2 separate regions of the Homo sapiens genome follow, and region 2 is linked to region 1. Evidence: fine-mapped expression QTL. Tissue or cell type: monocytes. Region 1 holds a variant in brackets; the other region holds the start of a gene. All regions are shown on one strand. Distances are between the middles of the regions.

What was found. PIP is the estimated chance that this variant, and not a neighbour inherited with it, causes the effect.
Region 2: it holds the start of HEATR5A, and the variant in region 1 is fine-mapped to the expression of HEATR5A in monocytes (Quach 2016, PIP 0.95).

What each region holds. Positions count from the first base shown.
Region 1 is chr14:31,482,416-31,486,657 of GRCh38, forward strand. It overlaps GPR33 (G protein-coupled receptor 33), which reads right to left. Exons shown (of 2, transcript NM_001197184.3): 2 at 460-1,556. The coding sequence starts at 1,550. The coding sequence ends at 549. Among named protein-coding and RNA genes, the nearest start is that of GPR33, 3.5 kb to the right of the region's middle. The variant T/G (reference allele first, on the strand shown) is at 2,536.
Region 2 is chr14:31,418,166-31,422,407 of GRCh38, forward strand. HEATR5A (HEAT repeat containing 5A) reads right to left here and starts at 2,385. Exons shown (of 36, transcript NM_015473.4): 1 at 2,307-2,385. HEATR5A-DT (HEATR5A divergent transcript) reads left to right here and starts at 2,593. Exons shown (of 4, transcript NR_110045.1): 1 at 2,593-2,812; 2 at 3,679-3,803. RefSeq lists a silencer at 1,846-1,965 and enhancers at 2,076-2,125, 2,556-2,705.

The sequences.
Region 1 (4,242 bases):
CAGGCGTGGTGGCAGGTGCCTGTAGTCTCAGCTACTCAGGTGCCCGAGGCAGGAGAATGGCTTGAATCCGGAAGGTGGAGCTTGCAGTAAGCCGAGATCGCACCACTGCACTCTAGCCTGGGTGACAGAGCGAAACTCCTTCTCATAAAAAAAATAAAATAAAAAATAAAAAAATTAGCTGGGCATGGTGGTGTACACCTGTAGTCCCAGCTACTTGGGAGGCTGAGGCATAAGAATCACTTGAACCTGGGAGGTGGAGTTTGCAGTGAACCTAGATTGCACACTGAACTCCAGCCTGGACGACAGAGTGAGACTCTGCCTCAAAGAAAAGAAAAGAAAAGAAAAGAATCACATTTGCAGCATGATCTTGCAAATTGCTTGTTTTCTTGCAGCCCTTTTATTGCTCAGAAATCTAACTATAGTACAGCCTAGTTATCTCTCTAATATAGGGACTATAGCATACAAAAGCAGAAGGTATATCCTATTGGTATAATTGACCAAGTGCGTGTTTGCTTAAGAATCTAGAATTTAAATTTAGGCTTCTGAGTTTAGGTTTGTGTCCTTTCTACAGAAGAATCTTCACTAAATGTTGACTCAAACAGAGCAAGAATGGACTTCTTGAAGACCTTTTTGAAATTCTCCCCAACAAATAAGTAGAGTGTGGGAGAAAAGATAGTATTGAAAGAAGTGGTTAGCACTGTAAGTATCAAAGTCAACTCTAAAAGTAGTGACTGGTTCGTAGTGAGAAGTAAGCCCTGGTGTATATGGTAGGGCATCCAACACACAAAGAAAGAGATAATGGCAGTCATCATAACTTTGAAGGGCTTGCTGGATTTAAACAGGCTCCTCTCTTTCACCTTGCTGGCTACTCTTTCATAACAAAAGATGATGATGAAGAAAGGCAGAAGAAAGCCCAGCAAGAAGCGGCTGATGAAACAGGCCACATGAATCCACTGCCTTGATGCTTGCATCTCCTTGCTTTCCCAGTTAGTAGACACAGCATAGTTATTTTGGCAAGTCACCTTTCCTTTACGGTCATGATGTGTCTCTCTGAAAATCAAATAGGGGATGCTGAGGGCAGCGGCTGAAATCCAGACTCCCAGGACAATGCTGGAAGCCCAGCGCGGGGTTCGGTGCTGCTGGGACCACACTGGGTGAAGAGTGAGAAGGTAACGATCAAGACCGATGGCCGAAAGGAAGAAAACAGAGGTGAACATCCCCAGAGACAAAGTGCCATTGAAGACCTTGCACAAGGCAGTTCCAAAGTTCCAGTGATTGTCTTGAAGTTGGGAGGTGGCCATAAATGGCAGAATCATTGTTGAAATAAAATAAGAGAGAATGAGATGAAAAAATAAGAGAGTATTGACAGTCTGTTTCATCTTGAATCTTAGCACCCATAGATAGAGGCCATTGGTGATGGTACCAATTATAGATGAAATGTACAAAGAAAGGGCAATAATCATTTTTGATGCAGGAGCTAGAAACTGAGTGCTGTTTCTTACTAAAGTAGAGGCATTGATCAGGTAATCAGTAGAGTTGATCAGATCCATAATGACCTGTGGAGTGAGAAACAGTGAAAATAACAACAAGAAAAAGCAAAAGAAAAGGTTAAATGTAAAAATTTAAAGAGTAATTTTTTACATAGTGATACTTCTAGTCCAAATGATAATATTTTAACAGCAGTAAGCAAAATATTTCTGCAAATCAAATATTTTTCTAAGGTCTATACTTTTATGTTTTAATGAGGAATTAAGATCAGATGAATCTGAGCATCAAAAATAGAAATATATGGATGAAATGAAATAAATGTGAAAAGAAGTAAATGTTGGGACATTTTGACAATTGTTCAATAATTAGGTAGTTAAAAATCTATTTTTTTTTTCTGAGATAGGATCTCACTCTGTCACCCAGGCTGGAGTGCAGTGGAGTGATTACAGCTCACTCAGCCTCAACCTCCTGGGCTCAAGGACTCCTCCTGCCTCAGCCTCCCAAGGAGTTGGGACTACAGGTGCACACTACCAGGCCGGATAATTTTTTTGTTTGTTTGTTTTGTAGAGATGGGGTCTCACTATGTTGCCCAGCCTGGTCTTGAACTTTTGGACTCAAGTGATTTTCCCGCTTGGCCTCGCAAAGTGTTGGGATGACAGGTGTGAGGCACTGCGTGTGGCCAAAAATCTTCTACTTGGACGTTAACCAGAAGTCTGACACTTTTTGATGGGCAAAACTTCTTGAATAAGGCAATGTAGAATGAGTCTTATTTGACTTGTGAGGGCAAAAGTAGCTAATGAAATGAATTTGAATAACAAAAATAATAGCAATGTTGCAAATTAGTAGTTATGGGTTTTATAATTAGATTTCTCTCATGAGCTAATTATATATAGTAAATACTATTGTCTAGTATTCTAATACTCAGCACATAACAGTAATAACTAATATTCATATGGGAGCTGTAAGCCACTGCAAGATTGTGAAGTACCTTCAGAATCATCAACAAAAGAGGGAAGTGTATTGTAAGATGTAGTAATTTTTTTTTTT[T/G]TTGAGTCAGAGTCTTGCTTTGTCACGCAGGCTGGAGTGCAGTAGCATGATCTTGGCTTACTGCAAACTCTGCTTCCTGGGTTCAAGCTATTCTCCTGTCTCAGCCTCCTGAGTAGCTGGGATTACAGACACTTGCCACCACGCCCGGTGAATTTTTGTATTTTTGGTAGAGAGAGGGTTTTGCCATGTTGGCCAGGCTGGTCTCAAACTCCTGACTTCAGGTAATCCATCCACCTTGGCCTCCTAAAGTGCTGGGATTACAGGCGTGAGCCACTGCGCCTGGCCAAATGTAGTAATATTAATAGTTCATTCTTGAGGAGGGGACAAAAAGGAGAAAAGTCACCAAACTCATATTTATCCAATATTTGTGGTATGCCAGGAACTTTCTATAAAAATCATTTCTGGCCGGGCGCGGTGGCTCATGCCTGTAATTCCAGCACTTTGGGAGGCCGAGGTGGGCGGATCACAAGGTCAGGAGATCGAGACCATCCTGGCCAACATGGTGAAACCCCGTCTCTACCAAAAATACAAAAATTAGCTGGGTGTGGTGGTGTGTGCTTGTAGTCCCAGCTACTCGGGAGGCTGAGGCAGGACAATCGCTTGAACCTGGGAGGCAGAGGTTGCAGTGAGCCGAACCGAGATGGTGCCCCTGCATTCCAGCCTGGTGACAGAGCGAGACTCTGTCTCAAAAAAAAAAAAAAAAAATTCTGTTTTTCCTTGCAAAGCCTGTGAAGCAAATCTTTGAACAGAGGGGAAAGTGAGGCTTCGTAGGGTTACATGTCTTATCCATCAATATTTCCCACCATGCCTCCATTGTACCAGGTGGGAAACTCTACTACTGTTTTATATTACTTCTTTGAAACTCAGTAATTCATATGTAGTGTTTTTAATAATGCTCAGATGATTTAGATAATCAGAGTGTTTGATTATCTAAAATATCCAATTTCTTGGATAATGGATCCCATGGTATCAAAAATATAAACCTGAGAATATTTTGGAAAATAGCTGTTATAACAGAGTCATATCAGCAAATTGGTTTTAGATAAATTGGATAAAGCAATGGAAATTACTAATGATGCTTTTTTCCTCACTAAACAAAAACATTCTAAGAATATATACAGAGAAGTAAGATAATTGCTATTTATTTTATTTTTGTTTATTTTTTAGAGACAGGGTCTCTCTCTGTCACCCAGGCTGGAGTGCAGTGGCACGATCCTAGCTCACTGCAGCGTGGAACTCCTGGGCTTCATCAATCCTCCCGCCTCAGCCTCCAGATAGCTGGGATCACAGGTGTGCAGCACCACATTTGGCTAATTTTAAAATTCTTTGTAGAGAAAAGGGTCTTGCTGTGATACCCAGGCTGGTCTTGAACTCCTGGCCTAAAGTGATCCTCCCACCTCAGCCTCCCAAAGTGCTAGGATTAGAGGCATGAGCTGCCGTGCCCAGCCATAATTGCTATTCAAAAATCACAACTTCCTAAGTTAATTCTGCCTTCTAAGGGAGTTGCAAAATTTTTCTCTAAAGTAGAAAAATGATTCTTCATGAAAATACCTTAGTAGTCTTCTTTGGGAATAAAAAGTGGAGTCTGAAGCATATGAAATGGACAGGCAATGGCAAATAAAAGAATGAGAACTTGAGAGAGAGGTTTTGTGAAGGCCCTGGGACCTTAAGAAGAGGGTGGAAGACGAGGATGATTTTAAGACAGGC
Region 2 (4,242 bases), 64 kb before region 1:
GCCACTGCACTCCAGCCTGGGCTACAGAGCCAGACCCTGTCTCGATAAAAACAAAAACAAACAAACAAACAGAAGAATTAAAACTGAATTTAATCTATTTCCTCCTACAAAAGATTTAGTGATTAAGCACTTAAGAGCTCTAGTTCAGGGGTCCACTAATTTTTTTCTGTAAAGGACCAGACAATACTCTAGGCTTTGGGAGCCATACGGTCTCTATCACAACTACTCAAAAACAAAACATGCACAGCCATAACGAAGGAGCATTGTTGTGTTCAATAAAACTTTTATAAAACTGCCAGCAGAGCAGATTTGACCCACAGGCTGTAGATTGCTGAGCACTATTTTAATTCAAAAATTTAACACTAGAACTAGACAAGGGATCTAATTAAGTGACACAGGCAAGTCTTTACTAAGTTTTTTGGCCCCAGTTAATTGATTTCTCAAATGAGATTTAATAACAGTTTCTCAATGTCTCCTGAAAAAGCAGAAGTGTTATTTATATGAGGACTGTGGTCTCATTAAAGGATTGTTCAAACTCTTCAATTATACTATGGGATAATTAATGAACCACACAAGACTCAATAGAGCTTTTTAAAAAAATGCAGATGTCATTAAACGCTTAATTCAGAATAATTTTAGAATTTAAAAAATTCAGAATTTAACCCTTATGTTATTCATAGTTAAGAAAGACTATTATAAACTACCTCAACCTTTTTGAAACAAAGCAAGAAGAAAGGTAAGTGTATTGGTTAAAGACAAGTAAAAAAATAATTTTTTTCTGTAGATAATATATTCATTAGTTTAATGTAGTTAATTTTAATTAATAATTTAAGAATTAAAAAGGTACTTTGGAGTCATGTATTTTCTGTGACTAAAGTCAGATACAATAATGAATAATACTAAAAAAGTGACCTAATCTAACATCCATAAATAGTGGAGGGAACTTAAGCTAGAATTCAGGTCTCCTGACTTTCAGGTGAGGAGTCTTTTCTTATTCTCCTATTCTATAGTCATCTAGGTAAAACAACTGCATTCCAAGGCACAACAAATCCATACTACAGTATTCTCCAACTGTCACTATTCTTATATTATAAATCCTGCCTGCTTATCAGTGAAGAAAAAAAAAAAGTCAATGGCATTAAAATGTAACACAAATCTCGGCTTCGATACTTTATCTAAAATTACTTTCTCAAAGACATACTTTCTAAAATGTTTGGAAAATTAAACAAAATTCTCCTCTCCCCATCCAACTAATGCTCAATTCTAACCACACTTCTGCTTTCCCTACAGCTTAAGTAATTTCACTGGGAGTATTTTCTCTGGAAGTTCTTAAGTGTACTTGTGGGCCCCTTTTTTTCCTCCTTAAACTTCTAATATCTTTCAGGCTGTAAATTCCTTAAGGGCGCCTAGCCCCAAAAAAGTGCTGCATATTTGTTCAATAAATGAATGCACATAAAAACAATGGATAACTATGACCTTTAATGTAGGAGCTCAAGCCATTTTATTATTATCTGACTTGACAGTCAAGAAAATTATCCCAACTTGCCAGAGGTATCCATTACTGTGATAAATAAACACTATAAAACGCTTTATAAAGTTTCTAAAGACTTTATAATCACTTGAAATAACGCCGCGTTGGCCGAGAGTAGGGTGAAAGAAAATGTTTCCTCACACTAAGCAAATGCCACCAAAGGAAAAGCTTTCTTTCCTGGAGAGAACTGCAACAGTTAGAAAGCAAATATCCACACTCTCCACTGCTCCCTTCTGGGAACTCTCTTTGAGGGTTCCTGCAGAAAACGAACGGGCCTCTGAGGAAGCTCGCCCGAAGGCCGGGCCGGGGCCCGGCTCCTGGCTGACCACTGGCGCAGCGGACGCCGCAGGGCGGGTCCCGGGAGCGGCGAGTTGGCGAGGCGGGCTCCGACTTGCTGACCTTCCCCACACGCCCGGCAACCCCGGCTCCCGCTGGCGGGCAGAGTCCACGCCTACCTGTTGTGCACAGGTGAAGCCAGACTTTCCCGTAGTCCAGGAGGAAGAACGGACCACGCTGTTTATCAGCCGACCCTGTGCCCCAGTCAGCCCCTTCTCGGCGGACTCCAGCCCTTAGGGTCAAGACACCTAGCCCCTCGACCGGTTCTCCCACCGGCTTCTTTCGCGATCACATTGCTGCCGCGACCACCCTCGGGATCCCCGAGCGCTCAACTCATACAGCGGCCCTGGTGCGTTCTCCTTCCCAGCCAACAGGCAGCCCAGACACAGCCCCCTCGCGCCCGGAGGTGTCCCCGCTCCCTGGATCCCCGACTGCCTGCCTTTGGGGGTCCTCCTCAGCTGAGCGTGCGTCCCGGTCCAGCAACGTTACCGGCTGCTCTGCTAACCCTAGCAGAGTCTGGAATTGCCGGCGGCGGCGACAGCGAGGCATTGAGGTGGGCGGGGCGCGCGTGGGGCGTGGCCGGAAAGCTCTCAGCGGCGAGCACCGCGGGAGCTAGCGATTGGGAGCGCGCCCTGCGCCGGGCCGCTGGTCCAAGGCCCCGCCAGCTGGCCGCCGAGCCATCGAGCGCCCACTCTGGCAGGCGTGACTGCTTCACCGTCGAAAGAGCGATGGAGACTGCGGCCCAAGTTAGGATTAGGACAGCGGTTTTTCAGTCCGGAGATTCCGGCCACAACTATTTTTGTCTGTTTTTATCGTAAGCCAGAGTCTTTGGGTGCAGCTCTGGGACACCTAAAGGGCCTGGAGAAATTCAGGCGGGGCCAGTGCTGTGGGGGTAGATGTTAGACGTGGAAGGGACCCTAGAGAGCCTTGACTGTGAGGACTGAGGTAAAGTGACTTGCTCAAGGTCACATACTAAGTCAATGGCAGAACTGAGACTAATAGCCTCTTACCTTGAGTCATGTGCGTTTTCCCACTACACTCAGCGTTTTAAATGTCATTTTTCAAGTTTCATTTTGAATCTATCTCCAGCTTACAAAAAGGTTGCAAGTATAGTACAAAGAACTTTTTTTCCCTGAATTGAGATTTAAATTGCTGACACCATGCCACATTGTCCCTAAGCACCTTCTACATAATCACAATATAACCATCAAAATCAAAACATTTACATAACTCGGCGTTTTACCAATTGTCCCAATAATATTGTTTATGGTAAAAGATTCCGTTCAGAATCAGGCATTGTATTTACTTATCATGTATCTTTCCTACTCTTCAAACTGGAACTCTCAGTCTTGCCTTGCCTTTCATATTCTTGACGCTGTTAAAGATTCCTGGCCAGTTATTTTTGTAGAATGGCCTTCATTTTGGGTCTGTCTGATATTTACTCATGATTACATTTAGCTAGGTATGACAGGACTCTAGAAGTGTTGCTGCTTTCTTCTCATGGCACCCTATCAGGTGGCACGATTTTAACTTCTCTCATTACAGATGTTTACTTTAATAAGGTGATGTCTGTTAGGCTTGTCCAGTGTGGTTACTTTTTTCCCCCCTTTGTAAATTAATAAGTATTTTGTGAGGGAGACTCTGAAACTCTCCTTTCAAGATATTTGTAAATATCTTGTTTCTCATCAAATCTTCAGTTAATGTATTTATATTAATTAGTATGGATCCAGAGGTTTCTATTTTGTTAAATGACTTATAATCCGTTTCTTTCTCTCTTTTCTCTCTCTCTTTTTTTTTTTTTTTTTCTTGAGACAGGGCCTCCTTTGTTGCCCAGGCCGGAGTGCAGTGGCTATTCACAGGTCGATAATGCAATCATGGTGCACACTACAGCCTTGAACTTCTGGGCTCATGTGATCCTTCTGCCTCAGCCTCCCAGGTAAGTAGCTGAGACTGCAGGCATGCACACCACCACACCAGCCAATATTCTGTCTCTATCATTATTTATTTTGATGCTCAATTATCCCAAGTTTGGTGGGTAGGGGCCCCATTCATTCTATCTTCTGTGATATGTGTGTGTGTGTGTGTGTGTGTGTGTGTGTGTGTGTTCAATTTTTTTTTAAGACAAGAAGACAAGGTCTCATATTCATTCTAGCTTCTGTGTTGTGTGTGTGTGTGTGTGTGTGTAATTTTTTTTTTTTTGAGACAAGAAGACAAGGTCTCACTCTGTCACCCAGGCTGGAGTGCAGTAGTCTGATCACAGCTCACTGCAGGCTCAACCTCCTAGGCTCAGGTGATTCTCCCACCTCAGCCACTCAAGTAGCAGGGACAATGGGTGTGCCACTGTGCCTGGCTAATTTTGTTTGTTTGTTTTTGTT